7 linked regions of the Homo sapiens genome follow. The protein of the gene in region 1 purifies or fractionates together with the protein of each later gene. This does not show direct contact. Each region holds a gene or a part of one and is shown in the gene's direction. Other genes may lie near its edges.

Region 1 (4,450 bases):
GTATCATATAAGAAGGCACAGGGCCGGGCGCGGTGGCTCACGCCTGTAATCCCAGCACTTTGGGAGGCCGAGTTGGGCGGATCACGAGGTCAGGAGATCGAGACCATCCTGGCTAACACGGTGAATCCCCGTCTCTACTAAAAATACAAAAAAATTAGCCAGGCGAGGTGGCAGGCGCCTGTAGTCCCAGCTACTGGGGAGGCTGAGGCAGGACAATGGCTTGAACCCGGGAGGTGGAGCTTGCAGTGACCTAAGATCGCGCCACTGCACTCCAGCCTGGGAGACTGAGTGAGACTCCATCTCAAAAAAAAAAAAAAAAAAGAAGGCATAGGATTTCTGTTTGTCCTATTACTGGTGATAAGTTGGATCGCTTGGTTAGGTGGTGTCTGCTTGGTCTCTCCACAATAAACTTACCATTTGACCCTTGTAATAATTTGTGGGAAGTACTTTGAGACTATGTAAATACTCTGTTTCTCATCAATATCTCATCTGCTAGTTTTAGCACCCAGTGATTCTTGTCTGAATCAGCTATTTCTGCACTGACTGCAAAATCATAATTTTCTAATGCCAGTGTTGCTTCTATATTAATTATAAAAGCTGAGTGTAGATGTTGCTTTGGTTTTTAAAAATTTTTGTTTGTTATTTTTAATTTGACACATAATAATCATACATATTTATGGGGTACACTGTGATAATTCAATACACATATACAATGGGTAATGATCAAATCAGAGTAATTAACATATCCATCACCTCAAACATTTATCATTTCTTTGTGTTGGGAATATTCAAAATCTGTTCTTCTAGTTATTTGAAAATGTACCATAAGTTGTTTTTAATTACAGTCACCTGGCTGGGCATGTTGGCTCACTCCTGTAATCCCATCACTTTGGGAGGCCAAGGCGGGCAGATCACTTGAGGTCAGGAGTTCGAGACCAGCCTGGCCAGCATGGTGAAACACTGTCTCTACTAAAAATACAAAAAAAATTAGCCGGGGTGGTGGCACACACCTGTAATCCCAGCTACTTGGGAGGTTGATGCAGGAGGATTGCTTGAGCCTGGGAGGCGGAGTGAGCCAAGATCGCGCCACTGCACTCCAGCCTGGGAGACAAAGTGAGACTCTGTCTCAAAAAAATTAAAAAATAATAGTCATTACAGTCACCCTATAGCACTATAGAACACTAGAATTCATTCCACCTATCTGGCTGTACTTTTGTATTTGTTAACCAATGTCTGATACACCCACCTTCCCCTACCCATCCCAGCCTCTAGTAACCATTATTGTACTCTGTACGTCTATGAGATCAACTTTTTTAGCTTCGTCATGAGTGAGAACATGTGTTATTTATCTTTCTGTGCCTGCCTTATTTCTCTGAACATGATATCCTCCAAACTCATCCATGTTGCCATGAATGACAGAATTTCATTCTTTTTTGTGGTTACGTAGTATTTCACCATATATATGTATGTATGTATGTATGTATATGCATGCCACAGTTTCTTTATTCATTCATCTGTCGATAGGAACTTAGGTTGATTCCATGTCTTGGCTATTGTGAATAGTGTTTATAATAGTATGGCGGTTCCTTAAAAAACAAAAACTAGAACTACCATATAATCTAGCAATCCTGATTCTGGGTATATCCAAAGGAAGGGAAATGAATATGTCAGACATATCTGCACTCCTATGTTCATTAATCCTATTCCTCCCATGAGGAACCTCCATACTGTTCATAGTGGCTATATCATCTTACATTTCCAAGAACTTTGTATATGAATTCTTTCTCTAAATCCTCACCAGCATTTGTTAGTTTTTGTCTTTTTTTTTTTTGTGGAGACAGTCTCACTCTGTTGCCCAGGCTGGAGTGCAGTGGCATCATCTTGGCTAACTACAACCTCCGCCTCTCAGGTTCAAGCAGTTCTCATGCCTCAGCCTCCTGAGTAGCTGCAACTACAGGCACACGCTACCACGCCTAGCTAATTTTTTGTATTTTAGTAGAGACGGGGTTTCACCATGTTGCCCAGTCTGGTCTCGAACCCCTGAGCTCAGGCAGTCCACCTGCCTCAGCCTCCCAGAGTGCTGTGATTACAGGTGTGAGCCACCACGCCCAGCAGTTTTTGTCTTTTTGCTTACACCCATCCTAATTAGGGCAAGATGGTATCTCATGGTGGTTTTGATTTGCAATTCCCTGATGATTAGTGACATTGAGGATTTTTTTTTCATATGCCTCTTGACCATTTATATGTCTTCTTTTGAGAGATGTCTATTCCAATTCATTTACCCATTTTTTAATTGGATTATTTGTGGGGGGTTTTTTGCTCTTGTTTGAGTTCTTTGTATATTCTGGATATTAATCCCTTGTCAGATGAATAGTTTGCAAATATTTTCTCCCATTCTACAGGTTGCCTCTTTATTCTTTTAATTGTTGCCTTTACTGTGCAGAAGCATTTTAGTTTTATATAATCACATTTGTTTAGTTTTGCTTTTGTTGCCTGTGCTTTTGAGGTCTTCCTAAAATCTTGGCCCAGACCAATGTCCTGAAGCATTTCTCCTACATCATCTTCTAATAATTTCATAGTTTCAGGTGTAAACGTTTATATCTTTAATTTATTTTGAGTTGGTTTTATATATGGTGAGAGTTAGGGGGTCTAGCTCCTTATTTCTGCAAATGGATATCTAGTTTTCTCAGCACCACTTATTAAAAACACTGCACTTGCTCCAGTGTATGTTCTTGGTGCTTTTGTTGAAAATCAGTTGACTGTAAATACATGGATTTCCGGATTCTCTATTCTGTTCCATTGGTCTGTATGTCTGTTTTTATGCCAGTACCATGCTGTTTTGGTTACTAGAGCATTGCAGTTTAGGGTCAAGTAGTGTGATGTCTCCAACTTTGTTCCTTTTGCTCAGGATCTCTTTGGAGTCTTTTGTGGTTCTCCTTTTCTATTTCTTTTTTTTATTTTTTTTTTGAGACGAAGTCTCGCTCTATCACCCAGTCTGGAGTGCAGTGGCAGGATCTCGGCTCACTGCAACCTCCACCTCCCGGATTCAAGCAATTGTCTCTGCTCAGCCTCCTGAGTAGCTGGAGTTATAGGTGCCCACTACCATGCCCGGCTAATTTTTCTATTTTTAGTAGAGACGGGGTTTCACCATGTTGGCCAGGCTGGTCTTGAACTCCTGACCTCAGGTGATCCGCCCGTCTCAACCTCCCAAAGTGCTGGGATTACAGGAGTGAGCCACTGTGCCCAACCAATTTTTTTTCTTTCTTTCTTTTTCCTTTTTTTTTTTTTTCTGAGATGGAGTCTTGCTCTGTCACCAGGCTGGAGTGCAGTGGTGCGATCTCAGCTCACTGCAACCTCCGCCTCCCAGGTTCAAGCGATCCTCCTGCCTCAGCCTGCCGAGTAGCTGGGACTACAGGCATGTGCCACCATGCCCAGCTAATTTTATATATATATATTTATTTATTTATTTATTTTATTATTTATTTATTTATTTATTTATTTATTTTTGGAGACAAGAGTTTCACTCTGTCACCCTGGCTGGAGTGCAGTGGCACGATCTTGGCTCACTGCAACCTCCACCTCTCAGGTTCAAGCGATTCTCCTGCCTCAGACTCCCAAGTAGCTGAGACTACAGGCGCAGGCCACCATGCCCAGCTAATTTTTGTGTTTTTTAGTAGAGACGGGGTTTCACCATATTGGTCAGGCTGGTTTCGAACTCCTGACCTTAGGTGATCCACCTGCCTCGGCCTCCCAAAGTGCTGGGATTACAGGCGTGAGCCACCTCGTCTGGCAATATTTTGTATTTGTAGTGGAGACAGGGTTTCACCATGTTGATCAGGATAGTCTCGATCTCTTGACCTCGTGATCCGCCCGCCTCGGCCTCCCAAAGTGTTGGGATTACAGGCGTGAGCCACTGCGCCTGGCCAGTGTTTTATAGTTTTTAGCACATGTCATATATATGTCTTGTTAGCTTTTATACCTAAGTATTTCATTTTTGTAATGATTGTAAACAGTGATGTATTTTTAATTTCAGTCTGTATGTTAATTGTTAAGCTATAGAAATTCAACTGAGTTTTAAAAATTATTTATTTTTTAAAAGTTGTGGCAAAATATACATAACATAAAATTTACCATTTAAAATATTTCAAGTGTGCAGTTCAGTGGTATTAAGTAGTACATTCACATGTTCCACTAGTTGTGGAATCATCACTACTGTCTATCCACAGAACATTATTTATTTTTCAGAACTGAAACACTACACCCATTAAAGTCATCATTCTTATCATTCTCCCCTTCATCCCAGACCTTGGTAACCACCATTCTGTTTCTCTATGAATTTGACTATTCGAGGTACCTCATCTGAGTGGAATCATACAGTATTTTCCCTTTTGTGACTTACTTGTTTTACTTAGCATAGTGTTTTAGGGATTTTGCCATGTTGTAGTATGTC
Region 2 (4,450 bases), on another chromosome or scaffold:
CTGAAAATTACTGGATTCCATTGGCGCAATGACCGGTGAAACTTCAACCTGTCCTTACCCAAGCCCAAGACTGTTTAATTAAAAAAACCAGCAGTATCCCCAGCCTTTTCATTCAGCTCCTACACCCAGGCAGAGGGGGGAACAAAAGCACTGGGACTGTTTCTCTTTCTTCCCTGACCTTTGGAATTCCTGAAGCGTTTCCCACTTGCTTGTAAATCAGGAAAGCCTGTTGGACCGTTCCTTTGAGAAACGCCAGCTCATCACTTGTTCTCATTTGGCCCATGGCTAAATTCGGCCGGGGTGGTGTGGGGTGGGAGGGTTTCTCCCCTTCCCTGGGCAATTTTAGATGTTCTCTCTGTGATATGCCAAGGTAATCATTCCAGAAGTGGGAACTGGTAAATTGTAGCTCTTAAGACTTCAAGAAGTGCTTCTGGGTCCCTCAGGATGAGTTGGGCACAGAGGAATGGAGCGTGGGGAGGCTGAATGGCTGGCTTTCCAGAATGAGGAAAGAGAAGAGAGAGCGGGTGGGCATGGTTTCCTGCATGGGTCATCAGAATCACCCAGTTCCAGGTGATAGAAGTCAGAATAGTGTTTTTGTGTCTGGAAGTGGTGAGGATTGACTGGAAAGGACCCGGGGGAACCTTTTCAGGGTAGTTGAAATGTCCTGCAGAGTGGCTGGAGTATGTTTCATTTTCCAAAACTCCTCAAATTATAACTTTATGCATTTCATGCTATGTAAAATTACCTCAACTAAACAATGAACCCTGGCCTGTATCGGACAGCCTACATAGCCAGCTGGGATTCAAACCCTTGGCCTCCCTTTTACCAGCAGTGTGACACTGGGCATGTCGCTCAGTGCCTTAGTTTCCTCATCTGTAAAATGGGACGTAAAGTACCTTCCTTAAGAGATGGTTGTGAGGACAGAATGAAACCTTGTGTTAACATTTAGCTATTTGCCTATGTAGGTGCCATCTTAATCCAGAAAGGATTTGAGGCACCAACTAAAAGTTCTTTTTTTGTGTGGCCTACCTTTTCCCCCACATTCTTCGATCCTTGGATTACCCCACAGTTCTCAGCCCTTAGCCCTCTACCAATGAGGTCTAGGGCAACATTGGACCCTGGGACCCAAGTCCTAGCCCCGCATTTAGACTGTACTGCACTTAAGCCTCTGTTTTCACTTCTACCAAATGGCAACATGTCACTAGCCAGCAGGTAAGGGGTAAGGCTGTTCTGCCTCATCTCCCATACCAGTAGCTCCTAGACTGTGCTATTTGCCTGTTTTGATTCCTTCACCCCAAGTTTGTAGGACCTGAAGAAATCGCGTTGAGCAGTACTGCTAACAGAGCTCAGATAAGAGGCTGTTACCTAACACCTGGGAGCCTTGTGGAGGTTGGCTGGGGGTCACGTGACTGCACCTGGCCATTGTCTCCGGCAACCGGAGAAGGCTGTTAGTAGTCTCTCGGCCCTGGTCTCCTGGTGACATCAGCACCTGGAAGCAGGGAAGCCCCACAGGTTCAGCTTTCTGGGGAGGCCCAGGGCTAGGAGAATTCATGAATGAAACTGAGGCTTTGAGTGGCCTGGATGGAGAGGCCTGGGAATGCCTGCTCAATAGCCCCTCTGTCAACACAGTGTCTTGGGTACCTACCAGCACCCAAGAGAAAACAAAGTTTGCTCTGGTTAACTTTGGACACGTTTTTCATTCTCTTGTAGGAAAATTATTTAAGAGCCTTAACCCTAGCATCAGGCAGACAAGTTCAAATCCCCACTCTGCCACTTCCTAGTGTTATTATGTTGGGCAAATGACTGAAACTCTCTAAGCCTTGATTTCCTGATCTGTAATAAGGGGATGGTATTTTACCAATTTGGGGGAGATTTAAATAAAACTATGTATATAGAACAAGCCTAACATATGTCTATCATTGTGCAGATGAGGCCCAGATCTGAGTTTGTGTGTGGACATACGTACGTGTACCCATGCCCTTAGTGCTGTACATCTCTACTTGTGAGAGTAAACCATCCGGTTTGACGCAGTGGCTAAAGTTGGAACTTGGTACTAGGGCTGAGAGCTTGTGCCCTTTAAGTTCAACCATATTTGTTCAGGCTGCTTGTGACCCCTGGTGCTAGCTGCAAAATTCAGGATACTGTGTTAATTATTCATAGGTTAGAAACATCCTCGGGGAAATAGGAGAGTTTCTTTACCTCCCAAAAAGCATTTGAAGGATAACTTTTACCCCAGTGCACTTGAAGGAGAGTTTATGTTTCCCTTTTGCAGATGTAGAAGCTTAGGATAAAAGGGGAAATTTTACTTGTTGGTTGAATGAATTTGTATTGGCGCAAAAATCTTGGGAAAAAACAATTTTTACCTATGAACTTAAGTAATTTCCATCTTTTGGCTGCAGTATATGACACATGGGGGCTTTGAGTCCTTAAAAATTATACAAACAGGCTGGGCACGGTGGCTCACGCCTGTAATGCCAGCACTTTGGGAGGCTGAGGTGGGCGGATCACAAGGTCAGGAGATCGAGACCATCCTGGCTAACACAGTGAAACCCCGTCTCTACTAAAAATACAAAAAAATTAGCCAGGCGTGGTGGCGGGCGCCTGTAGTCCCAGCTACTGAGGAGGCTGAGGCGGGAGAATGGCATGAACCCGGGAGGCAGAGCTTGCAGTGAGCCAAGATTGTGCCACTGCACCCAGCCTGGGCAACAGAGCCAGACTCCATCTCAAAAAAAAAAAAAGAAAAAAATACACAAACTATGTTCATCTTAGGAGAATAGGAATATATACAGATGAGCAAAATAAAACTTGCCTGTGATTTTACCATGTGGAGGTAGCAATGTCAATATTCTAGTGCCTTCCGAATGTTATCTATGATATATATTAATACGTGTCCTTAATGTATTAATATTTTTATACAAATATGGACTCTTGCTATTGTTTTTTAGCATGGGTCCATATTTGTATAAAAATACATTAAACATATATAAAAACATTTAGCATGTTTTTTAACCTGTGATAAATTAGGGATATCTCTCTGTGTCAATACATAGTTTCTTGATTTAGCTTTAAATTTAGGAAGTTTTTGGAATATGACCAAAAGTTGGGGGCTGGCTTTCCCAAAGGAGGGGGGCAAGGTTACTGTAAGCCTAAATTATAACTCTTTTTAAAATTCTAGCAAGAATTGGTTATCTTTCTTCTTCCTTTTTTTTTTTTTTTGAGATGGAGTCTCACTCTGTTGCACAGGCTGGAGTGTAGTGGCTTGATCTCTGCTCATTGCAACCTCTGCCTCCCAGGTTCAGGTGATTCTCCTGCCTCAGCCTCCCGATTAGCTAGGATTACAGGCGCATGCCACCATGTCTGGCTAATTTTTGTATTTTTAGTGGAGACAGGGTTTCACCATGTTGGCCAGGCTGGTCTCGAACTCCTGACCTCAAGTGATCCTCTCACCTCGGCCTCCCAAAGTGCTGGGGTTACAGGCATGAGCCATCGTGCTTGGCCAGTTTCTTTTTTTCTAGTTGGAAGTTTTTATGAAAAGGAATCCCTGGGGGCCCACACTTTAGACTTGGAACTCTTGGAACTCTCCAAGTTCCGACCAGCTACCATATTTATGTCGTGTCCTCTGAGATCCTGATACTAGAGTGTTGGCCTTTTAAGTTTTAGGACTATCATATAAAGATGATTGTTGTTCTGAATGACAACTTTTGGGGAAGTGCAGTTGTTTAGCGGTTATAATAACATCTTCCTGTGGTACAGAAGCAAGTACAGTCCACGTTTGCTACTGCAGATGTAGGCTTCATGGAACCATATAGACTTTGAAGGCCGGAAGGATCCTGTAGCCATTTTGCAGATGAGAACACTGAAGCCCAGTGAGCTTTGGCTGGGCTTGGGACCTGGGCTAGAACCCATGTCTCTTGATTCCCATTTTGTACAGCATGGAAAGGTGGGAGTTACGGGGGTGCTGGGCAGAGTGGAGATTGAGATGTGCCTGCCTTAACTGTAGTTGAGGCTTTTGTTTTGATTAGTGTCCTGATAGCTCTCTACCCAGAGAGGCTTAGTTAAAGGAGGGAGTCGTAATAATCACGGTAAGTAGCTTAATTACTCATACAGTAAATGTCAGGGTTCTTTTAGAGTTGTTTCAGTGAGCTATTTCTTGCAAGAACTGGGGAGAACAATAGCAGGGATGGTCAGAGGCTTCTATGCTGTGATGTGAGGGGACTCCCAGGTTCCCGACCCTGAGTGTATGCTATGCCTTTGCACGTGCTGGAGATGTCCACGATGTATACTGAGGCTTTCGGCTCCTGGCCACTCCTGGGGTGGTCCCGTCTGACTTCAATGAAAGATGGGTCTACAATGACAAAGACCAAAGAAAGAAGAAACAAAACAGAAAAAGCGCTGCATGTTCTCTGAGTTCTGCTATTTTAAGAAGTGCATTTGTCACTGTGAAATTGAT
Region 3 (4,450 bases), on another chromosome or scaffold:
ATGCGGGGGGCCCTGCAATGGAATATTCCTTAGCAGTAGAAAGGAAAGGAACTATCAGTTCCCATAACACAGGTGAATCTCAGAGCAGTTATGGTGACTGAAAGAGCCGAGCAAAAAAGACTACATGCAACATGATTCCTTTATGTAAACATTCCAGAAAGGACGATCAGTATATAGGGAGGGACCATAAGTGGGTGGTTGCCTGGAGCCAGGGAAGGAGGAAGGGGAGACAGGGGTTACCAAGGGGCACGAGGAAACCTTAGGGTGATAGGTACGTTTGTTCTCTTGAGTGTGATGGCTTCATTGGCGTAGACACATGTTAAAACTGATCAAGCTGTACCCGTTAAATATGCACAGTTTATTGTATGGGGTGTGTATTCTATTCCCCGATAAAGCTGGAAAAAGAGTTTTGCTGTAAAGAGGATGACACAAGTGAAACAGTAGCAGGAGATGTGATTTTATCTTAAGCATGGAAGGAAGAGAGTTGAACCTGCGTGACATAGGGGCATTTAGGCTGGCAGTGAGAGAGGAGAGCGAGGTGGGGACCATTTGTGAAGGTTACTGTATGTCATGTGGAGAGCTTTGGAATTTATCCCATCATCGGCATGGTTCTGCACCCCGTCGTGTGAAGAAATCATCCGGAGAACTTGTTCTGAGTCCAGAAGTTACCTACAGGCTGCCTTGAGGCAGTGGTCCTCACACGGCATCCTCCTGGCTCCCTTCCAACTGCAGCTGCCGTGAACATGGGACAGTCCCCGCATGTGGACAGTGCCCTGCCTCAGGTGCTCGTGGGGTGCTCTGCCGTGGGAGCACACTCAGCTCGTGCATGTGTTGGGGCATCAGTGCCCTGAGGGCAGCCTTCAACAAGCAGTGGATAAATGTCCCAGTCTTGGAGAGACATTTGCGACATGCATTTAAGCAGAAGACTCCCATGATCTGATTTCAGTTAAAAAAAAAAAAACTCACTGCTGCATAGAAAATGAAGTGTGAGTGCAGGGATTTGGAGGAGACAACGCAGAGTGGAAGCAGAGAGACCAATTAGGAGGCGGCAGTGGTGTCTCTGGTAGAGACCCTGGTGGCCTGGGCAAGGAAGGCAGCAGCACATTCCAGGTAAAGAGGTCAGACCCAGGAAGTGTTCTGGAGAGAGAGGCGAGGGACAGCTGGCGGATTGGATGGGCAAGTGAGAAAGAGAGGGATCAAGGGGGCCACGAGGTTTTTGGCCACTGCTTCAATGATGGAGCCATTTTTAAGATAGGTGAAGACTAGGGTTGGGGAAAGTGAGATCTTGGAGTGCCGCAGAGGGCCCCCGTGGGAAGGAGCACCAGTTGGCCACAGCAGTGACCAGCTCAAAAAAACTGGGTTTTTCCTTTTTCCTGCCCTATCTTGCTTTCCCCATTTCCTCTTGGAATCACCTGCCAAATACTCGACTTGCACCCGAGTCCTTGTCTCAGCCTCTGCTTTTACGGTCTCCCAATTATGATGCCCACGGAGGCCAGGAAAGCTGTTTTATAAGCACTCCAGGCTTTTCGACGCAGATGGTCTCAGGAACTGGACTTTAAAGAACACTGCTATAGGCTGTGAAAAAACATGAAGGATTTCACACAGGGGAATGACTGGACAGATTTGCTCTGGTAGGAAATGAACTCTGGTGGCAATGTGAAGTCCAAGTTAAAGTAGCAAGAGACAGGAAGCAGGGAGACCCATTAGTAGGCTATTACGAATGTCCCGACAGGAGGTAATGATGACGAAGGCAGCGATTGAGGCCGTCTCTTTGTGAAAGTCCTTTGATTTATAGAGTATGTAGCGGTTCCCACAGAAATGAGACCAAGCCTAGTTTCACACCCCCAGCACTGTGGTTTTCAAAAGCTTGCATTTCTAGCATTTCACATTTTCTTTTCTTTTTTTGGTATCTTCGACTTCCAAAATTTCATACATCAGTCTGATGCTATGCATCTTCACTTTGTTAAATCTTATGGTTTCAGGATCTTGACATTGGTGCCAAGAACGTGAAGCTTTACGTCAACAGAAACCTCATCTTCAATGGCAAGTTAGACAAAGGAGATAGGGAGGCCCCAGCTGACCACAGCATCCTGGTTGACCAGAAGAACGAGAAGAGCGAGCAACTAGAGGAGGCCATGAACGCTCACTCGGAAGAAAGCAAAGGCACCCATGAGATGGCTGGTGCCAGCGGGGACAAGGAGCTTGGTCTCGGTTGCTCACCGCCAGCTGAAACATTAGCGGATGCAAAGCTTTCTTCACAAGGAAATGTGTCTGGCAAAAGAAAGAATTCTACTAATTGCAGGAAAGACAGTTTGTCCCAGTTAGAGGAATATTTGAGACTGTCGGCAGTCCCCACTTCGATGGGTGACATGCCCAGTGCTCCTGCCACTTCCCCACCTGTGAAGTGCCCTCCTGTCCATGAGGAGCCCTCTCTCATCCAACAACTGGAAAACCTCATGGGCAGAAAAATCTGTGAGCCACCCGGGAAAACCCCATCCTGGTTACAACCTTCTCCCACCGGCAAGGACAGGAAGCAGGGAGGCAGGAAGCCAAAACCCCTCTGGCTTAGTCCCGAGAAGCCCCTGGCCTGGAAGGGCAGGCTCCCATCAGACGATGTCATCGGTGAGGGTCCTGGAGAGACCGAGGCCAGGGATAAAGGCCTACGGCATGAGCCAGGGTGGGGGACCAGCCGGAGTGTCAACACCAAGGAGAGACCCCAGAGGGCAACCACCAAAGTCCACAGTGATGACTCAGACATCTTTAACCAGCCCCCCAACAGAGAGCGCCCTGCTAGTGGGAGGAGGGGCTCAAGGAAGGATGCTGGCAGCAGTAGTCATGGGGACGACCAGCCAGCCAGCAGAGGTAAGCTCCAAAGAGCAGCCCGACTTGGGCATCATCATCCCAGCCCCTCTAATTGGCATGAAGCCAGTTAGCTCCTGGACCTCAGTTTCCTTATCTGCACAACAAGATGGTTGTTCTCAACTAAGGGTCACAAAATCACTGTCTCAGGGGCCAAAGAGATGCATACATGAGTGAAATGGGCAAGACACATTTTGCATGGTAAATTCATAGATGTATTTGTCATTGCCACCAAGGTATGTCCCTTTGCCCATTTTTCTTGCAACACATGGCTTTTCCAAGCCATTTTCCAAAAGACTTTGTTCTCCTGCCTTTCATAGAGACATCGGTCTCTAGTCACTTCACTTTATCCTTAACTGTACTGTTAGAAAAATAGCTGGGTACAGTGGCCAGGCCTGTAATCCCAGCACTTTGGGAGGCTTAGGTAGGAGGATCGCTTGAGCCAAGGAGGTCGAGGCTACGGTGAGCCATGATTGCGCCACTGCACTCCAGCCTGGGTGACACAGCGAGACTCTGTCTCAAAGAAAAAAAAGAAAAAATAATAACACAAGTGTGATGATGCATAGCAATTGACACTTGCCTGAGTGTTGGAAGTGGCACAGGGAATAGTGAGGACTTTGGCAATTTGGAGACCATAAGCCCACCCACAGGGCGGCTGCCACTCCACTCAGGTTTCTAATAAGCATTTAGGAGTGCAAGGCCAGGCCGGGCGCAATGGCTCACACCTGTAATCCCAGCACTTTGGGAGGCCGAGGCGGGCAGATAACCTGAGGCCAGGAGTTCGAGACCAGCCTGGCCAACATGGTAAAACCCTGACTCTACTAAAAATACAAAAATTAGCCAGGCATGTGGTGCGTTCCTGTAATCCCAGCTACTTGGGAGGCTGAGGCAGGAGGATCACTTGAACCTAGGAGGTGGAGGCTACAGTGATCCGAAATTGTGCCACTGCACTCCAGCCTGGGCAAGAGAGTGAGACTCCGTCTCAAAAAAAAATAATGAATGCAAGGCCACTGTACCAGACCTCCTCTTTACTTTTTTCAAGAGAAACCAGAAATGTTTCTTATTTTTTGACTTTGGCAACTGATTGAGATTATTTTTAAACTACTGTATATGTCAAAAAAAAAAAAAAAAGGCACATCTGCTGGCAGGACTCACCCTGAGAGCTTTGTGAACTTTGCAGTAGATGATTAGATGGTCTTCAAGGGCATTCCTGATTATGAAAGGAGAGCCCATCAAGGCAGGGAGTCTCAATATTTGCACTCAGACTTGGCTCCTGGAGAGTACGGATAGCAGCTAGGAGTCAAACCATTGAATCCAAACTCAGCCGCTTACAGACCTGGGACCTCTAGCCAGGCACACAACTCTCTGGGCCTCAGTGTTTTCATCTGTAAAATGGTTATGACTTCCCCACCCAGTGTGGCAAGGAAAGAATGAGATGATGGCTTCCAAATAGCAACACTGAGCCTGTGACATGATGAGTGCTCGGTGAGTAGTAGTCGTTATTTCACCACTAGCTTGGACGAGGTCCTTTTCCATCCACAGAACACTCAGGCCTGCCATGCCAGGGCTCACCCCTAGAGCCTCTGGATTT
Region 4 (5,232 bases), on another chromosome or scaffold:
TGGGAAGTGTTCACTGTAAATGTGTGGTCACGGGGTGGGAAGTGCTCACTGCTAGTGTGTGGTCACGGGGGTGGGAAGTGCTCACCGCCAGTGTGTGGTCACGGGGTGGGAAGTGCTCACCGCCAGTGTGTGGTCACAGGGGTGGGAAGTGCTCACTGTAAATGTGTGGTCACGGGGTGGGAAGTGCTCACCGCTAGTGTGTGGTCACGGGGTGGGAAGTGCTCACTGCTAGTGTGTGGTCACGGGGGTGGGAAGTGCTCACCGCCAGTGTGTGGTCACGGGGTGGGAAGTGCTCACCGCCAGTGTGTGGTCACGGGGTGGGAACTGCTCACCGCCAGTGTGTGGTCACGGGGTGGGAAGTGCTCACCGCCAGTGTGTGGTCACGGGGTGGGAAGTGCTCACCGCCAGTGTGTGGTCACAGGGGTGGGAAGTGCTCACCGCCAGTGTGTGGTCACGGGGTGGGAAATGCTCACCGCCAGTGTGTGGTCACGGGGTGGGAAGTGCTCGCCGCCAGTGCGTGGTCACAGGGGTGGGAAATGCTCGCCGCCAGTGCGTGGTCACAGGGGTGGGAAGTGCTCGCCGCCAGTGCGTGGTCACGGGGTGGGAAGTGCTCGCCGCCAGTGCGTGGTCACGGGGTGGGAAGTGCTCACCGCCAGTGTGTGGTCACGGGGGTGGGAAATGGTCGCCGCCAGTGTGTGGTCACGGGGGTGGGAAGTGCTCGCCGCCAGTGTGTGGTCACGGGGGTGGGAAATGCTCGCCGCCAGTGCGTGGTCACGGGGGTGGGAAATGGTCGCCGCCAGTGTGTGGTCACGGGGTGGGAAGTGCTCGCCGCCAGTGCGTGGTCACGGGGGTGGGAAGTGCTCGCCGCCAGTGCGTGGTCACGGGGGTGGGAAATGGTCGCCGCCAGTGTGTGGTCACGGGGGTGGGAAGTGCTCGCCGCCAGTGCGTGGTCACAGGGGTGGGAAATGGTCGCCGCCAGTGTGTGGTCACGGGGGTGGGAAGTGCTCGCCGCCAGTGTGTTGTCACAAGTTTAAGGTGAAGGCAGTCAGCCTGGATGTGTGATTTTCTTCAGCAGTCATGGAGGAGAAGGGTTGGGCTCGCCCAGTTGGGTTTTCTAAGTGAATACAGTGGAGAGGGAGCGGGAGGCGAAAAAGCAGAGCCCTGTGTATAAGAGTGAAGAGTGAAGTGTGACGACGGCCCAACAGGGAAGCGCGGGCGGCGAGACAGCCCGACGGGAGATCTCCTGAGGCGGGAGAGTCCCTGCAAGGCGACTGAGCTGCAGGGCAGGAGGTGGAGCTCCACGGATGACTTTTGACGGGGGCCTTTCAGCCCTTTGCGGCTTCTCACAGTTGAGGACCCAGGGAATGTCCAGGACTGAAGGGTGTGCGCCCCTGTCTTCTACTATCGAAGCTTCAGGCTGTTTAGCCTCCGTTTCTCCAGAAATGCCAGTCAGATTCAATTTCCAGAAACGCACCTGGCACTAAGAGAATCTAGAAAACCAGGCTGAACGCAGATTAGAAAACGCCGAATAGAGCACTAGTCGAGCTGCAGCTGAGTGAATTACCGAGTAAAAGTGACAGGACTAAAAAGGTGAGAATAACAGGAGGTGAAGAGACACGAGCCCGCCACAAGAAGGACTGAGGAACAGGGCAGCCCACGTTTTGAGAAGAATGGCTGTATTTCTAGAGTCGAAGAAAAGTGAAATCTCAGACTCGGGAAGCCCAACGTGGTTTGAGAGGGCAAAATTACACCAAACCACACCGAGACGTGTCAGATGGTAACTGCTCTGCACCGAAAGAGACGGGAAGACACCGCTAACTCACAGGGTAGGTCCGCGCGGGAGGCCTCTGGCGCGGCGACGGGGCGGGGCCAGGCGGCTCCCAGCATGCCGCGCGCGCCCTCCGCGGGACTCCGGCTCCCGGCATGCCGCGCGCCAGCGCATGCGTGATGCGGCCTCGCGAGGCAGTGCCCCCTGGCGGCGGGTAGTGACCGCCGCGGGGGCGGAGCCGGAGGCGGGGGGTTGCGCTTGGTGACGGGAGGACGCGCGGCCGCCGCGCACTGGGCCGGCGGCGGCGGCGGAGGACGCCGACAGCACGGGCTGCCGCGGCAGCAGCGGCGGAGCAGCAGAGAGGCCGGGGAGCGGCGGCTGGCTCACGCGCGTCGCGCGGGCCGGGATGAGGGACTGTGGCGGCGCGGCCCGCGCGCAGCCGGCCGGTGAGAGCGCGGGCAACGGGCGGTGGGCGGCGCGGGCCAAGAAGATGGCGGAGGGGCCGGCGCTGCGGTCCCCGTGGTCCTGGCCCAGCCTCGGCGGAGGCTCCAGGCCCGGCAGCGCAAGGAATCCAGGCCCGCGGCGACTGCAGCGGCGGGAGGGGCTGTGACTGGGCCGTGGAGGGAGGGGGCGTGGGTGTGCGGGGCCCGGCCGGGCGGGGGGCGCGGAGGCTCGAGGGGCCGAGGCCGCGCGGGGCCCGGGTGCGCGCCGACGGGCCGGGCTGGGAGTGTGAGGGTGGGTGAGTTCGCGTGTGCCCGGCCCGAAGTGGGTGTGACTGTACCCTGTCCAGAGTGAGTTGTGTCCCTGCCCTAGGTGGGTGTGAGTGTGCCCGGCCCCAATGTGGGTGTGGGTGTGCCCCTGTCCAGAGTGAGTGTGAGTGTGCCCCTGTCCACGGTGGGTATGAGTGTGCCCGGCCCGAGGGGAGTGTGGGTGTGTCCGGCCCCAGGGGGGTGTGAGTGTGCTCCTGCCCGAGGGAGGTGTGAGTGTGCCCGGCCCTAGATGGGTGTGAGTGTGCCCCTGCCCGAGGGGGGTGTGAGGGGACCCCGCCCGTGGTGGGTGTGGGTGCACGTGTGCCCAGCCTGAGCTCGGGGCACCGGCCGCATTCCCGGGCGCCGTCGGAGTGGGGACAAGGTGGATGCCCGCCGGTCGGGTCTGGTGCCCGCGTCCTGAAGGGCGGCCCGGGTGCAGGGCTGCGGTGCGCTGCGGTGCAGCCTCGGGCTTTGTCCCCGGGGCGCAGGGAGCGGACATGGGCGTCTCCAGGTGGGGTCATGGCCGCCTGCGGGTGGGCTCTGCGGCCTCGCCTCTGCGGCAGGCGCGGGCTGGGGCTCCGGCGCTCGGAGCCTTCCCCTCCCGGTTGCCCCCCGAGCTGGAATTCCCTCGGTTGCTTCCCGGTTGCTTCCCAGTTGCTGGAGTGCTGTGGGTGGAGGCGGCGTTCCGTGCCCAGGGCGGCGAGAGAGGCGGGCTGTGCATTTTGGGGCCCAGGACGTTTTTTATTTTAAAACGTGCAGCCGGCTCCTTGGCAGCTGTGGGTGTGTTCCGAGCCGCTTCCCACCAGCAGCTGCTGTGGGCGCTGCGCAGCTTCGGAAACGCAGCCGGGCCCCCTCCCCCTCAGTGCTGTACGGGTTTAACCAGACCTCCAGTGACCTCTGCTGAAAAACCTACAGTGGTGAGGCTTCTCGTGCCTCCTGGTACAACAATACGGAGATTTGTCTTTTGAAGCCAGTGAGGGGAATTGGACGCTGCGTCCTAGGTGCCCTCTATAGACAGCAGGTGGTTCCGTCGGCGGCGCCCGATCCACAAGGAGCAAGGTGCGATTCTCGCGCCGGGGGAGGGAAAGGCGATTTGATAGGAGGTGTGGCTGTAAATCGAGGAGACTCATTCCATAAACCGCCCTGGGCGCAGGCTCTGTAGCCATAAATGCTTGGAGTGAATGAATGGGGGTGGCGCCTCGCTCCCTGCACTTGGTGTAGCCAGCTGTCTTCCTGAGAGGCAGGGGAGCAGAGTGGACAGGAGGGCGGGTTCTGGAGCCAGGCTGCCCGCCTCTGAGTCGCGACTCTTCTGTTTACTGGCTTTGTGGTCTTCGGCAAGGTCTCTGTGCCTTTGGCTTCTCATCTGTAAAATGGGAACACTAATAATATTGGCCTCATAGGGTTGTTGTGAGGACTCAGTAAATTAAGACTTGTGAAACACTTTGTTCGTGGCACACTGTGTTTTAGAAAGTTAGGAATGGTTATTACTGCCAAGATCTGGTGCTTCCGGGGTGCATGTGCTGGGTCAGTGGGTCTTCAGTTTCTCCAGCACTGCCAATGTAATGTAAACTGGAAGTTTACATTAAGCTGGAAGTCTGTGGCGCTGGTTTCTCACACAAGAAAGCTGAGGTCATATTTGGATGAACACATGTTTATAAAGGTAAAAGAGAGACAAGCCTCACATACTTAGATGAATTATTATATAAGATTGTTTTAAGACGTTCTTAGAGAAAAATGGCCAGGTGCGGTGGCTCACACCTGTAATGCCAGCACTTTGGGAAGCTGGGGCGAGCAGATCGCTTGAGGTCAGGAGTTCAAGATCAGCCTAACCAACATGGTGAAACCCCGTCTCTACTAAAAATACAAAAATTAGCTGGGTGTGGTGGCTCACGCCTGTAGTCCTAGCTACTGGGGAGGCTGAGACAGAGAATCGCTTGAACCCAGGAGGCGGAGCTTGCAGTGAGCCAAGATTGTGCCACTGCACTCCAGCCTGGGTGACAGAGCGAGACTCTGTCTCAAAAAAAAAAAAAGAATATTTTATTTTATTTTATTTTTATTTTTAATTTTTGAGACAGAGTCTCGCTCTGTCGCCCAGGCTAGAGTGCAGTGGCACTATCTTGGCTCACTGCAAGCTCTGCCTCCTGGGTTCATGCCATTCTCCTGCCTCAGCCTCCCGAGTAGCTGGGACTACAGGCTCCTGTCACCACGCCTGGCTAATTTTTTGTATTTTTAGTAGAGACGGGGTTTTACTGTGTTAGCCAGGATAGTCTCGATCTCCTGACCTCATGATCCGCCCGCCTCGGCCTCCCAAAGTGCTGGGATTACAGGTGTGAGCCACCGCGCCCAGCCAGTTTTTGCTTGTTTTTGAGACAGGGTCTCACTCTGCTGGCCAGGCTGGAGTGCAGTGGTGCGATCATGGCTCACTGCAGCCTTGACCTCCTGTGCTCAAGGCATCCTCCCACCTTAGCCTCCCAAGTAGCTGGGACTACAGGTGTGTGTCACCACACCTGGCTAATTTTTTTGTTCGGTTTTGTTTGTAGAGATGTGTTTTGCCATGTCACCCAGATTGGTCTCAAACTCCTGAGCTCAAGTGATCCACTTGCCTTGGCTTCCCAAAGTATTGGGATTACAGGCATGAGTCACTGTGCCCAGCCTGCCATTGTTGTTATACTTCTCAGTATTATCCTTGCAACAGAAACGGTGATTTATTAAAAT
Region 5 (4,450 bases), on another chromosome or scaffold:
GACTGTCATGTTCATCCTGCTCTCACACAGAATATGTCATCGTCGTCATCATCATCATCATCATCCTATCGTTGTTGGAACCCAAAGAATCTGCATTAAGTAAATAATTCAGTATGGGCATGGTGGCTCACCCCTGTAATCCGAACACTTTGGGAGGCAAAGGTTGGAGGATCACTTGAGGCTAGGAGTTTCAGACCAGCCTGGGCAACATAGCAAGACCCTGTCTTAAAAAAAAATTATAAAAAAAGAAAGCACCTCTCACTTTGATTTCTGGTTCCTTATTTTTCTAGAACCTTCAGTATTGTGGCATTAGCATAATCTTTCCAGCCTAATCAATCCTTCTTTCCTTTCCCTCACATTTAATTGAATACCTGTCATGTTCCAGGATATGGTAGGGATCCAGAGTCCTTAAGACCCAGCTGTCACCCTCAGGTTCCTCAGGGAACCTAGAAAGGAAGACAGTTACATAAATAGGTCGCCTTTGCATAATCAAAGTCCTCTGTAGTCTCTCACTGGCTGTGAGATGAGAGTTCAACAAATTGGGTTTTCCAACTTTCTATCCCTCTCTTTACACTTTACATAGCTGAACATGCACATTCCAATCATGCCCTTTCTTGCTGCCACCATTCTTCCAGCTTGGAATGTCATACCTTTTCGTCTCCAAGTGTGGGTCCCATGCACTCATTAACTTAAAAAAAAATTACTTATTGTGCTAAGCTGTGGGAATATGGAAGTAAGAGCTACCTCTTCTTGTAAAGGACCTATTTAAGCAGGAATTTCAAAGTCCTTTCTCTTCGTCCTCTGAACTCATTGTCAGTACCATGTGTAGTATTTGCTACTGGAGCCAATAGCTGACTTGTGATGTTGGATGTGTGTCCTCTTTTTCAAGCTGTGTGGAAGGCTCCTCAAGGGCAGAGACCAGAGCCTCACACAGTGCTTACACATCAGGCATGCTGTAACATGCTGGGTGATGGTGATATGCATTCCGGAATGGGTGTGGGAGGGACTGGGATTCAGTTTCTTCCATACTCTGCAATCCTTGCTATTTCAGATTTCCTCAAGGTGGTACTCTATTATATTTGAACAATTTAACTGAAAGTGTTTCTAGAGTGGCATTAGAATTCATTGACTCAACATTTCCAAAACCTACAAGTTATAGAGGATGAAACCAGCTGATAATGGAAATTAAATGTCATAAAAGAGAAAATTTTATTAACAAAATTAAGATAAAAAGTGAAATATGTTATTTATAGAAACTTGCATCTGTTAATGTAAGACTAGAGGAAAGGTTTTTCTACCCCCCCAAATATTCTTCCTAGAAAATTAGTTCGCCCTGATTATAAAATTGCAGACAAAGAAGAGTATGATATAGAGAGTGAAAGCCCTGATATGCTCCTGCCATCCAGAGGTGACCATTAAGAGTTTGGTGAATATTCCTTCTGTTTTTTTCCCTAGGTACACAGTAAAGTCATACAGATCTTTGAAAGATATGTAGTCAGACTTATTGAGTAAAAGGGGTTGGGCATGGTGGCTCACACCTGTAATCCCAGCACTTTGGAAGGCCATGGCAAGGAGATTACTTGAGTCCAGGAGTTCAAGACCAGCCTGGGCAACATAGGGAGACCCCATCTCTACAAAAAATAAAAAATTGGCTGGACATGGTGATGTGCACCTGTAATCCCAGCTACTCAGGAGGCTGAGGTGGGAGGATCACTTGAGCCCAGGAGGTAGAGACTGTGGTGAGGTGTGATTGTGCCACTGCACTGCATGCAGCCTGGGTGACAGAGCTGGAATGCAGTGGCGTGATCGAAAAAATAACAATTTTTAAAAGGGGCACTGATTTTAAGCTATAACCCCTATATTTTAAATACATAGGCTGGATTTTATCTTGCTCATACAGACTTTTAAAATGATACCCTGTGTTTAGCCCTGAAAAGTGCTTACTTCTTCTTTGTCTGATGGGTCTTAAAATTTTCTATCCTTGCAGCTTACCCTGTGTTACCACTCCACTAAAGAAAACAAAGTATTCTTTTTTACAATAAAAGGTTATTTTTATATGAAACTTTGAATTTCACATTTATCAACTCATTTGATTTTCAAAACTGGTTTTGTTGGAGGTGCAGGTCAGAAGAGGAGTGGAAACCAACCTGCCCTAATCCTATTGCACCCATTTTCCCATCAGCTCACTAAAGAGTCGTGTGGAAAGTTGGTAGCTTTATCCTCAGAGGCCCTCCTGGATCCTCTCTGGACCTTTCCCAGGTGATACCATTTCAGGAAAATGGGTTTCTTTTCAAAGACAGAATGTCTTTAGGACAGAAAGGGGTTGTTTGCCTTCTAGGTATGTGCATGAGGGGTTCATTTCTTAGCTTGATTTTCTTTCCAGTGATTCATGATGTGACCTTCTAACAAGTTCCTTTTCTTAAGTCTAAAAAGTGTGGACCTGGTACCCCTTTACTGAGTAAAGAGAAACTAAGGCATGCGGTTTGGAAACTAATGGTAATTTCAGCATTGAGACCTTGGTGGGACTTTGGAGCTCACAATCAGACCAGTGTTTGACAGTTAAGCTTGTGTATACTTACTCCAGCTCTCTCTGGACTGGTCTTGTATGGGTCCAAGTCGTTGTAAGTTCAGGAAGGTAATTAGATCCCTTTGATGGGGGTAAAGAGTGGGATCTTTACCCCCGATCTGATACTGGGGAGATTCCAGGCATCTGACTCTATAAACTCAAAAAGAAAGACCTGATTGGTAAACTATAATCTCAGTTTGTTAATTTGTACTTAACCTTTATGTGCCTCTGAAAAATGGAGGAAGTAGTAGCACCAATTTCACAGGGTTATTATGAAGATTAAAATGACATTATCAGTAAGTTGAGTAAATTTTGAGTGCTTGGTGGTGGCAGTGGTGAGAAGTGATTGGATCTGAATATATTTTGAAGGTAGAGCTGATGGGATTTGCTGATGGATTGGTTGGATGTGGAGTTTGAGAGAAAGAGGAGTCAAAGATGACTCTAAGGTTTTTGGCCTGAGCATCTGGAAGGATGGTTCTGTCATTTACTGTGATGTGGAGATGTAGGGGGAGGAGGAGGATTAAGGGATGGAATCAAGAGTTTGGTTTCAGATGTGTTTAGTTTGAGATACTGAATAGACATGCAAGTGGGGATATTGGGTAGGCATTTGGAAAAGGTCCAAGCTAAAGGTAAGGATTTGGGGATCATTAGTATAAATGGTATTTAAAGTCATGGAATTAGGTAAGATCACAAAGGAGTGATTATAGATAGAAAAGAGAAGTGTTTGTCATAGTAAGTGCTCAGTAAATGTTGGCAGTTACTCCCATTACTATAACTACTTGAATTATTATTGCTGATACTTTATAGGAAATGTTACAGAACTACTGGGTGAACCATAATCTCTCATTTTCTTTGTATGAAACCTCTTTGGGGAATCAAAGCTATATTAGAAATTTCCATAGAGAATATGCTGTCAAGATCCAGGGAGTTAGATGATCCTGGTGAGTAGTGCTCCTTGAAGTCATTCACCCGTGAGAGCTGGATGGCTTCAGGTGTTGGGATTTGATAGGCCTGGGTTTGAGTCCTGGCTTTACTCTGCACCAGCAGCGAAACCTCTTTGAACCTCAGTGTCTTCCTCTATGAAAGAAGGCTTACTTTGCAGGGATGTTAGGCAGATTCAAGGAGATGAATGTGAATGCCTTCCTTTCCCCTCCACTGTTAAGGACTAGGACTCTGGGCCAGTCAAGTTCCCTTTCTGGAACTCATTGGAGATACTCTGTTTCTTTTGTGCTGCTTCTTAAAACCTTACTCCAATTACTAGCCCTCTTGTACTGATAACAATCCCTTGTTCAGTGTGATTCATTGCACTTAATTAGATAACAGTGTATCTTTTGTTAATTATAATTTAATCTCCTTAATGGGGCTATCTTTTGTCTTATCAGCACCACATTGATTAATTCATTTTGAATGCACATGTGAAATCTGATGTTCATTCCTAAGCTTTCAGTTTTCAACCTACACCCCTTGTATGGGTCCAGCCCTGTTTACTCCCATGAAGACGAGGACAGTAGGATTTTAATTCCTGAGACCATGTGGCCCCATGTGGCAGCCAGAACACAGAAACTTCTTGATAGCTCCTACTGTGGTCTTCAGGAAGCCTTTTTGAAGAGCAATTCTAATACCACAACTGCTGAAACTATCTGGCAGATGGCATGGACCACTCCAAAAAGTAGCAATTCTCGTTGTTAGAAGTATTTAAACAAAGCTTGGTGTATTAGTCTGTTCTCATGCTGCTAATAAAGACATACCTGAGACTGAGTAGTTGATAAAGGAAAGAGGTATAATGGACTTACAGTTCCACATGGCTGGGGAGGCCTCACAATCATGGTGGAAGAAGAAGGAAGAGCAAAGGGATATTTTATATGGTGGCAGGCAAGAGGGCAT
Region 6 (3,196 bases), on another chromosome or scaffold:
GGGTAGAACAAAAAGTTGTTAATACTGTAATATAATGTATAGATGATACCAATTTTAACAGAAATGGCATAGAATTTGTGAATGCCTATGTGCTTTGTCCTCTTTTGTAAGGAAATTTGCAAATGGATGCATACAGATTAAAGTCTATGTAGTTTATTTTCCTATTAAATATCAATATTATAACACAAGAGAAAGAAGTGTGAACAAACAAGCAACAGTTTATGACCAGCGTATATATAGCAATGGAAAGTTGCATCTTTGCTGTGAAAACACTTTAAAGAAAATACTTTTTAAAAAATCCCACAGCTTTTTGGTTGCCACTAGACGCTTCTTATTTTAATCATTTTAGTAATGCTCAGCTGGACCAGTGTTAGTTATATTTGAGTCAGAAAAATGTTGTTTTTCAACTTGCTTTATAATCTCCTGCATCTATCTCCTGCTGTAGCATCACGAAGGTGTCAGGCAACAGTGAAAAGTGCACATTTTTGTTGTTGCAGAAACTGTGTCAGAGGAATAAGTAAATCAGCCTGCAGCAGAAGACTTTGTTCAGCTCCAGAGGCATCTGTGACCGTCTGTGTCCAAGTCTCTCTGTGCCTTTTTCTTTTACAAACTGAAGCTGTGGAGCCAATGAAGTAACAGTAGAGATTGTAGGGAAAGAATACCTCAGGAAAAACAAATACACTTACAAGAAGACCCTGTTCTTAGAAAATGTGTTTAGTTATGGGTTAGCACTAGAAGAGACTTGGCTGTCAGCCAGCCAAGTGAAGGACCTCTCATCCATTCCCATTCATGTCCCATCATAATACGGACCCAAAAAGCAAACTCGGTTTTGCCATCAGTTAGAAATTACGTTTTGGATTGTATATTGTTACATCTCTCTTCCGGCTTAGTTTTTAGTGTCTGATTGTGACCTCTGCATTTATCTTCAAATACCCTAATTTTAAAACAAAAGAACAAGAAAAGTTTATAACACCATGTTCACTAAAACCACGGTTGAATCTTGGGTGTGGGCATCCTTTCGAGTGTTGTCCATAAGAGCAGTTCGTGGAATTTTGCCCATCTGACCCATATTATCAGCTTATTCTGCCACCAGAGTAGAGTCTAATAAATTCCAAAGTTTTTATTTGCTCCATGGTGTATGTTCTGACTTTGAAAATGTCAGATTCTATAATCATACCCCTAACATCCAGGAAACAAATGACAGATTATCTTTAAACTGAAATTGACTCTACAATGCAACCCTTAATGCTGAATGGATTAAAAAAGTCAGCCCTTTTAGTATCTGTTTGAAAGGGCCGTAAAAAGTTGACACTTTTGTTGTTGTGGATCCTGCGTGTCTAGACCCACGTGTTGTTTCCATCGTATACTGTAGGGTGCACCCCTTGGGATTCATCATTAAGAACTGAGGCTCACTGTTGTCAGAAACAAAGCTCCCACCCCCCAGGTTCAACCTTGTGGGAGAACTGTTGAGCATGAGAATGTTCTAGACTCAGAGGTACTAAAATTTGTTACCACATCATTGCTTCCTTTCTACAGGACGAATTGAGGCTTAAACTTTACTGTTAATGATACTGGTTCATTTTAATGTGCTTGTTGGTATGTTGCTATTTTTCATTTCATAGCTTTCAAAAATCATGCTAATTGTATACTTGTCTAGTTTAAGGCTATTTTAAAATATGTACAATACTATTCACAGCATTTAGTTCGTTTAATTTTTATTATAAAGCAATCTACTAAAAAAGTACAACTGTATTTGAACTTTTCAATAGTTGTTTGTGAGCTATGATAATCAAAAGTCATTAAAGTCTTTTTTAACAAACATTCGTGCTTACTTTTCAACATAATTCCCAGTTATATACAGAAAAAGATTTCCACCTGTCACGTATCTGCCTCTTTTACCTGAGCAATGGTGTAGTTCTTAGACCTAAGGTCTGTAATTGCAATACTTTTAAAGAAAGATGTTGCTCTAAGTGCTGTTTGTTAGTTATGAAATCAGATTTTTCTGCTTGTTCTTAATGCTGTGGTCAAACCATAGCACAAAATCATTAAAAATAATCAGCGGCATACATTTGTCCCTTGGGTTTTTGTTTTGTTTTTCTTTGTCTTTCAGCAACAAGGCACATGCATGGGGAAAATGCTGTGTGTTTTAAGACCTGTCTCAAAGAAATACTTCCTGTGGCTCCCTAGCTAAACTTCCCACTCAGCTTGTAGTCACTCTGACTTTTCAAAAAAATCACTACTTCATATTCTACTAGAAGCAATTCTGGTCAGATCATGATTCGTTTCCCAATGCTGGGTTCTACACAGGTCATTCAGACAGTCATCAGGTCCCCTCATGCAAGGAGTCCCCAGAGAAACTGCTCACCCCACCTGAGGCGCCCAGGGAGGACTTTCTAGATGCCTCAAAAAGTCTTTGGGTGGCTGTCACACAAAACCGAAATGCTCAGCCCAAAATATGAACAAGATTCCTAACAATGACAACTATTCCACAATGGAACAGACCCCCTCAGTGTGTGTTTTAAACTCCTTGGCATTGGAGGTCTCCAGTCAGTGATAATGTAACAACAGAGAGGCTCTAAATTTCCTACACCGAGAGACTAGAATAGTATTATCTCTATGCTCTAAATAAGAATATGGGTTCACAGATGATGACTGTGTGTGCATAAAACCCCACACGATCTACCAAACTACTAAAGTGGATTTAGCATGGTTGCAGGATATGCAATTTATTTTTGCATTTCTATGTACTTATAATTAGCAAATGGAAACTGAAATTTTGAAAATACCATTCAAAATGGTATGGGCCCCAAATTCTGGTATGGGCCCTAAATTCTAATGGTACATCCATTTTCGATTCTGAATTAAATTCTTTCTTTAAGATTATTTTGGAAAGGGGATTTGAAGAGAGCTATAAGAAGGAATAGAGCAATAGGAAAGTTTCTTTCCTGTCAAACAGCAAATAGTCACTAATTAACCACACCACACTCTGGAATAAATTCTGTAATCTCTGAATTTAGCAAACCATTAGAGAAATATTAAAGATACCCCCCAAATTTGCTAACGCTAACAACTATGCAAACTTTGTTCCTGCAGACAGCTCTGCACAGAAGGAATGAGGGGAATCCAGGCTTGGGATCCCTGCTTATGCAGACCATAAGCAGCAAATCCAGTAAAACCTGGGACTGGCTTCTCACAA
Region 7 (4,034 bases), on another chromosome or scaffold:
ATATTTGCCTTTCTGTAAATGGGATTAAATATGATTTGTAAATAAAGGACATCTGACCTCCTTTTTTGGTACATTAAGGCACTTTATAAATGGACTTTTATTGTCTCATTTTTCGTATATAATTATTTCCATCATATTCTTTATGGAAGATGCAATTAATTTTAACTTTTTTACTCTTATAAAACCAGTTCCTGACATTTTAAAAAACAATATCTGTAAAATGGATCCTTTTATGAGTGAATTTTTCTGCTAATTGCCCAAGGCTAAATCCAATTTAAGGATTGCTTAGTTTCTTTATTTTGTTTATGGTCTCTGAACTGGTATTTTTTTATAAACCAGGCTAATTCACAGGTCATACCATTTCATTCTTGTCGTGTTGGCTTCCAGTCACTGGAAAAGCTTTTGCATTTTAAAGATTTTTAGAGCCATGCAAAACTGGGCATTAAATGTTGCATAAAGCAAATCTTTTAAGTAAGGTAAAATGTTGAAGTCTTAACCAGAATTCCTACAACTAATTACTAAAACTGCTATTTCTAACTCTTCATGAAAGCATTACCTTTGGAAAGTTAAACTTTTTTTTTCCTTTCATCACCGTCTTTGAAACAAATTATTTTCCAATTCATAAGAACTTTGGTAAAAAAAAAAATAAAAGGAAATTATATGTTTTTCTTTGGACATTCATTGGAAGGCTTGTTGAAGACATGATCCCCCAGAAGCCTTAGTGACCCAGATCTCAACCAGAGACTCAAGATAGCCTCAAATACAGTGAAAGATTATGTATCCAAAAAAAAAAAAAAAAAAAAAAGAAAAGGAGCAGGGAAGGACAGTTCTAGTTAAAGCCAAATGGATGTGAGTCTGACAAGGGTGTCTTTGATTTATATTTCCTAACTGCAAATTACACAGAAAGTGAGAATGGGGAATAACTTTTATTAAGTATTTATGTGCCAGGCGGTTAGTGTGGCCTTCATGTTATTACATTTAATCCTCAAATTTCTACAAAGGAATAATTTTGCATGATTTTATGATTGACGGAGCATTTTCAAATCTCCTCTAATTCTCATAACATCTCTGTGAGGAAGGAATTTTTATCCTTATTTTACAGATGAGGAAGCTGTTTGGAGATAATTTAAGTGACTTGCCTGGGGAATCTAGCCAGTAGTAGAGTACTGATTAATCAGGTGCTGACATCTGCTCTGCTTTGTGTATGTAATTCAGCAGTGCTTCAAAGATCCAAGAAGCTGTAGCAGATCTCAATACACTCTCCTATAAAATTAGTGAATAATCACCATGACAAAATTGGTATGGCGGAACAGTCATTATACATTATTTAGACTCATTCCTTCTTCCAGTGCCCTTATGATTATTTCCTACCTTTACCATTGATCTTAAACTGTGCAGGCTAAAAAGAGGAACCAGAACTCCCTTAAGCACTTTTAAGACTATTTAAAAAATAAAGTTTTGTTGGCATTGAAGAGTAAGCTGCTTAAGGGACTGAATGAAAAGATAGTACCCTTTGTGGCTGTATGAAGAGAGAAACTGAATTTCTATCCAAGAGACCTTAATTTAGTTTATTAGGGAATTATCTTCCCCAAAAGTACAAGTAATTTTGCACTGCAGGAGAAGGATAAGTAGATTTGATTTACATCACATTTTATACACACCTTTCAAAAGGAAGAAATCTGTTTCATAAATAGTAGTAATCTATGCTTAAACTTAACATTTAATGTTGACTTCTTACAACAGCCTTGAAAATTATTTGTAATTTTGATCATGATGTTGGAAAGCTTGTAATAAAGAATATCTTTCTCTTCTGCATCCTTTTATCCTCAAACTTAGCATGGATTCACATGCTGAGTAAATGTTTGGTTAACTAGTGAACATTTTAGATAGTTGTGTCAAAAATAAGGGTTAGGGATAGGTAAAACCAGTAATTTACTGTTTTTTACAGAAGACATCTCAGCATTTCTTTGGCATTTTTGCACAAATAAATGACTATATATTCACCTTGGCCATTTTTTTTTTTAAGTAGCCCTATGAGCTGCTCATTCTTTTTCATATACAGTGGAAGTATACAGATGTTATCCATTTTACAAATTGTTGGATCGGAATTTGACAGAATTGGGACTGTGGAACCTGGGTCACTTGAATTTTCTATATTTTGTATGGCCAAATCAGGAACCAGACAGTCTCCATAGTCTCCTTTGTTTTTATGGAAAATTGCCATATTCACATATTTCATTTATCCTAATGTATTGTCATCCAAAATGAAAGAGGTCTTTCTTGAAGGTGCTTTAAAGACATCACTACATGTATTCAATTACTGATTTAAATATTCCCAGAATTATTTTTTACCTTTCTCTTTTTCCTCTCAAACACAAAATTTTAGTAGTACCTCCCTCTATTTCTTCACTGATTTTTCATCTGTTTTCATTGTTATTTCCACTATAGAACTTCTACTTTATACTAGCGGGGAAAATTTTTTTATTTAGAATTTTAATATTTGAATTTTGTTTATGTATCACATACTGTGCTACAGTTAGCCTCAATGAAGATTCTATTTTGAACTAGACATCCTGTCAATAGTTTGTCAAGTAACTTCATTGCTTCCTTTGATAGCAATTCAGTGAAATTTTTTCCCAAGTGATATTTTCCCCCAACTTTTGTGAGTTTGATAAATAGGATGAGTCTTTTATATTGGAAATACTGTGAATGGAAAATTGCCAAATCCCTTCTTAGTATATTTTAAGCACCCTACAACACTTTACCTCCCTGCCTTTAGTGGTATTTAAACATATGGCCAAGTTAGTATTTGGGTTTGATTCCTTTGGTGAAGATTAAGGCATCAAAACATTTCTTAAAATGTTTGAGTACAAGGCTAAGTTATAATGTCAACTTTCAAAGACTATGTTGTGATTCGGTTTGAATATGCTGAAGTGAGCAATTATGATTTGCCCAAGTGCAATACAACAAATCTATAATGTATATTTCACATTTTCTACTTGAACACATTCATGTATATATTTTGTTAAACTTCATATGTATTTAAAAAGAATCATGAACTGTATCAAAATTCTTTCAATAAAATTTCTATTTAAAAATCTCTACCTGAATTGTGTCTTATCAGTTTGACGAACTGAAACAAACACTGTGAATCTTACAGGTATTGGAATAGATACTAGAGGACTTAAGGAATGAAAGGCAAAGAATGATTCTCAGAGCCAAGAAACAGCAGAACTTACTAGGAGAGAAGAGATGCTAGGAGGTTGGAAGTATCTTTACATTGTGAACAGCCTCATTGTGGCTCTTAGTCAGCATCTGACCTCATAAACATGTCTCGAAGTATTTACTTCCAGATATTTCCATCACTCCCAAGTTGTTCTCTCATCTCAGTTTCTATGGATGACTTTGTCTTATATGACGTGAAGACCAAAACATCTGATGTGAGCCTCCATTATCCTTCCAAATTTTTCCCTCTGATTAGATGCAATTCTTTTTTAAAATAACTTCTTCCACAGTATCCCATGCACCACTCATGTCACCTTCCTTCTCAAAGGTATTCTTACCAAAGCAGCTTCTTTACTATCATCAATCTCTGCCATACTTCAAGGCTTTATCCTCAGCATGTCTGCTGTCAGATTCCTTGTATGTGGTCTACATTTGCTGCTTCTACCTCCTTTCTAACCATTTCCATAGCTCCTAGTAGTATAGCTTCACTCCTCCCTATTTCGTAGAAGTTGCTTCAAGGCCATCAGTGGCTTCTCGTCACATTCATGGCAGAACTACCAGCATATCAAATTCAAAATTGAAGAAAACAAATCTTTCCCATTCAATTCTCAACTACCAATTTGTCGGAATTCTTCATAGAATTCTTAGAAAACTAAGCAATGCCCTGTCACCTCCATTTCCTGAATCCCTTATCATAAAACGTCTTTCTTCCTTTGAAATCTTTTACTTTCTTTTCCATTCCCACTGCCCTATTCCAGGATTTCACTGATGACTGCAAGCAGAATCACTTTCCTTGCCCAACTCTAGCC

What was found.
Region 2: the proteins of KATNA1 (region 1) and CCDC88C purify together in Homo sapiens (affinity purification with mass spectrometry; one large-scale study listed by BioGRID and IntAct). This does not show direct contact.
Region 3: the proteins of KATNA1 (region 1) and KATNIP purify together in Homo sapiens (tandem affinity purification; one large-scale study listed by IntAct). This does not show direct contact.
Region 4: the proteins of KATNA1 (region 1) and ARHGAP39 purify together in Homo sapiens (affinity purification with mass spectrometry; one large-scale study listed by BioGRID and IntAct). This does not show direct contact.
Region 5: the proteins of KATNA1 (region 1) and ENOPH1 purify together in Homo sapiens (affinity purification with mass spectrometry; one large-scale study listed by BioGRID and IntAct). This does not show direct contact.
Region 6: the proteins of KATNA1 (region 1) and LDLRAD4 purify together in Homo sapiens (affinity purification with mass spectrometry; one large-scale study listed by BioGRID and IntAct). This does not show direct contact.
Region 7: the proteins of KATNA1 (region 1) and SLC30A7 purify together in Homo sapiens (affinity purification with mass spectrometry; one large-scale study listed by BioGRID and IntAct). This does not show direct contact.

The regions. Positions count from the first base shown.
Region 1 is NC_000006.12:149,616,995-149,621,444, reverse strand, and holds part of KATNA1 (katanin p60 ATPase-containing subunit A1), read left to right. Parts: intron 1-4,450. UniProt on the Homo sapiens protein: Catalytic subunit of a complex which severs microtubules in an ATP-dependent manner. Microtubule severing may promote rapid reorganization of cellular microtubule arrays and the release of microtubules from the centrosome following nucleation.
Region 2 is NC_000014.9:91,410,729-91,415,178, reverse strand, and holds part of CCDC88C (protein Daple), read left to right. Parts: intron 1-4,450. UniProt on the Homo sapiens protein: Required for activation of guanine nucleotide-binding proteins (G-proteins) during non-canonical Wnt signaling. Binds to ligand-activated Wnt receptor FZD7, displacing DVL1 from the FZD7 receptor and leading to inhibition of canonical Wnt signaling.
Region 3 is NC_000016.10:27,738,059-27,742,508, forward strand, and holds part of KATNIP (katanin-interacting protein), read left to right. Parts: intron 1-1,982; coding exon 1,983-2,862; intron 2,863-4,450. UniProt on the Homo sapiens protein: May influence the stability of microtubules (MT), possibly through interaction with the MT-severing katanin complex.
Region 4 is NC_000008.11:144,682,668-144,687,899, reverse strand, and holds the start of ARHGAP39 (rho GTPase-activating protein 39), read left to right. Parts: upstream 1-2,053; 5' UTR 2,054-2,214; intron 2,215-5,232.
Region 5 is NC_000004.12:82,436,856-82,441,305, forward strand, and holds part of ENOPH1 (enolase-phosphatase E1), read left to right. Parts: intron 1-4,450. UniProt on the Homo sapiens protein: Bifunctional enzyme that catalyzes the enolization of 2,3-diketo-5-methylthiopentyl-1-phosphate (DK-MTP-1-P) into the intermediate 2-hydroxy-3-keto-5-methylthiopentenyl-1-phosphate (HK-MTPenyl-1-P), which is then dephosphorylated to form the acireductone 1,2-dihydroxy-3-keto-5-methylthiopentene (DHK-MTPene).
Region 6 is NC_000018.10:13,650,688-13,653,883, forward strand, and holds the end of LDLRAD4 (low-density lipoprotein receptor class A domain-containing protein 4 isoform alpha 1), read left to right. Parts: 3' UTR 1-2,064; downstream 2,065-3,196. UniProt on the Homo sapiens protein: Functions as a negative regulator of TGF-beta signaling and thereby probably plays a role in cell proliferation, differentiation, apoptosis, motility, extracellular matrix production and immunosuppression.
Region 7 is NC_000001.11:100,978,654-100,982,687, forward strand, and holds the end of SLC30A7 (zinc transporter 7), read left to right. Parts: 3' UTR 1-3,104; downstream 3,105-4,034. UniProt on the Homo sapiens protein: Zinc ion transporter mediating zinc entry from the cytosol into the lumen of organelles along the secretory pathway.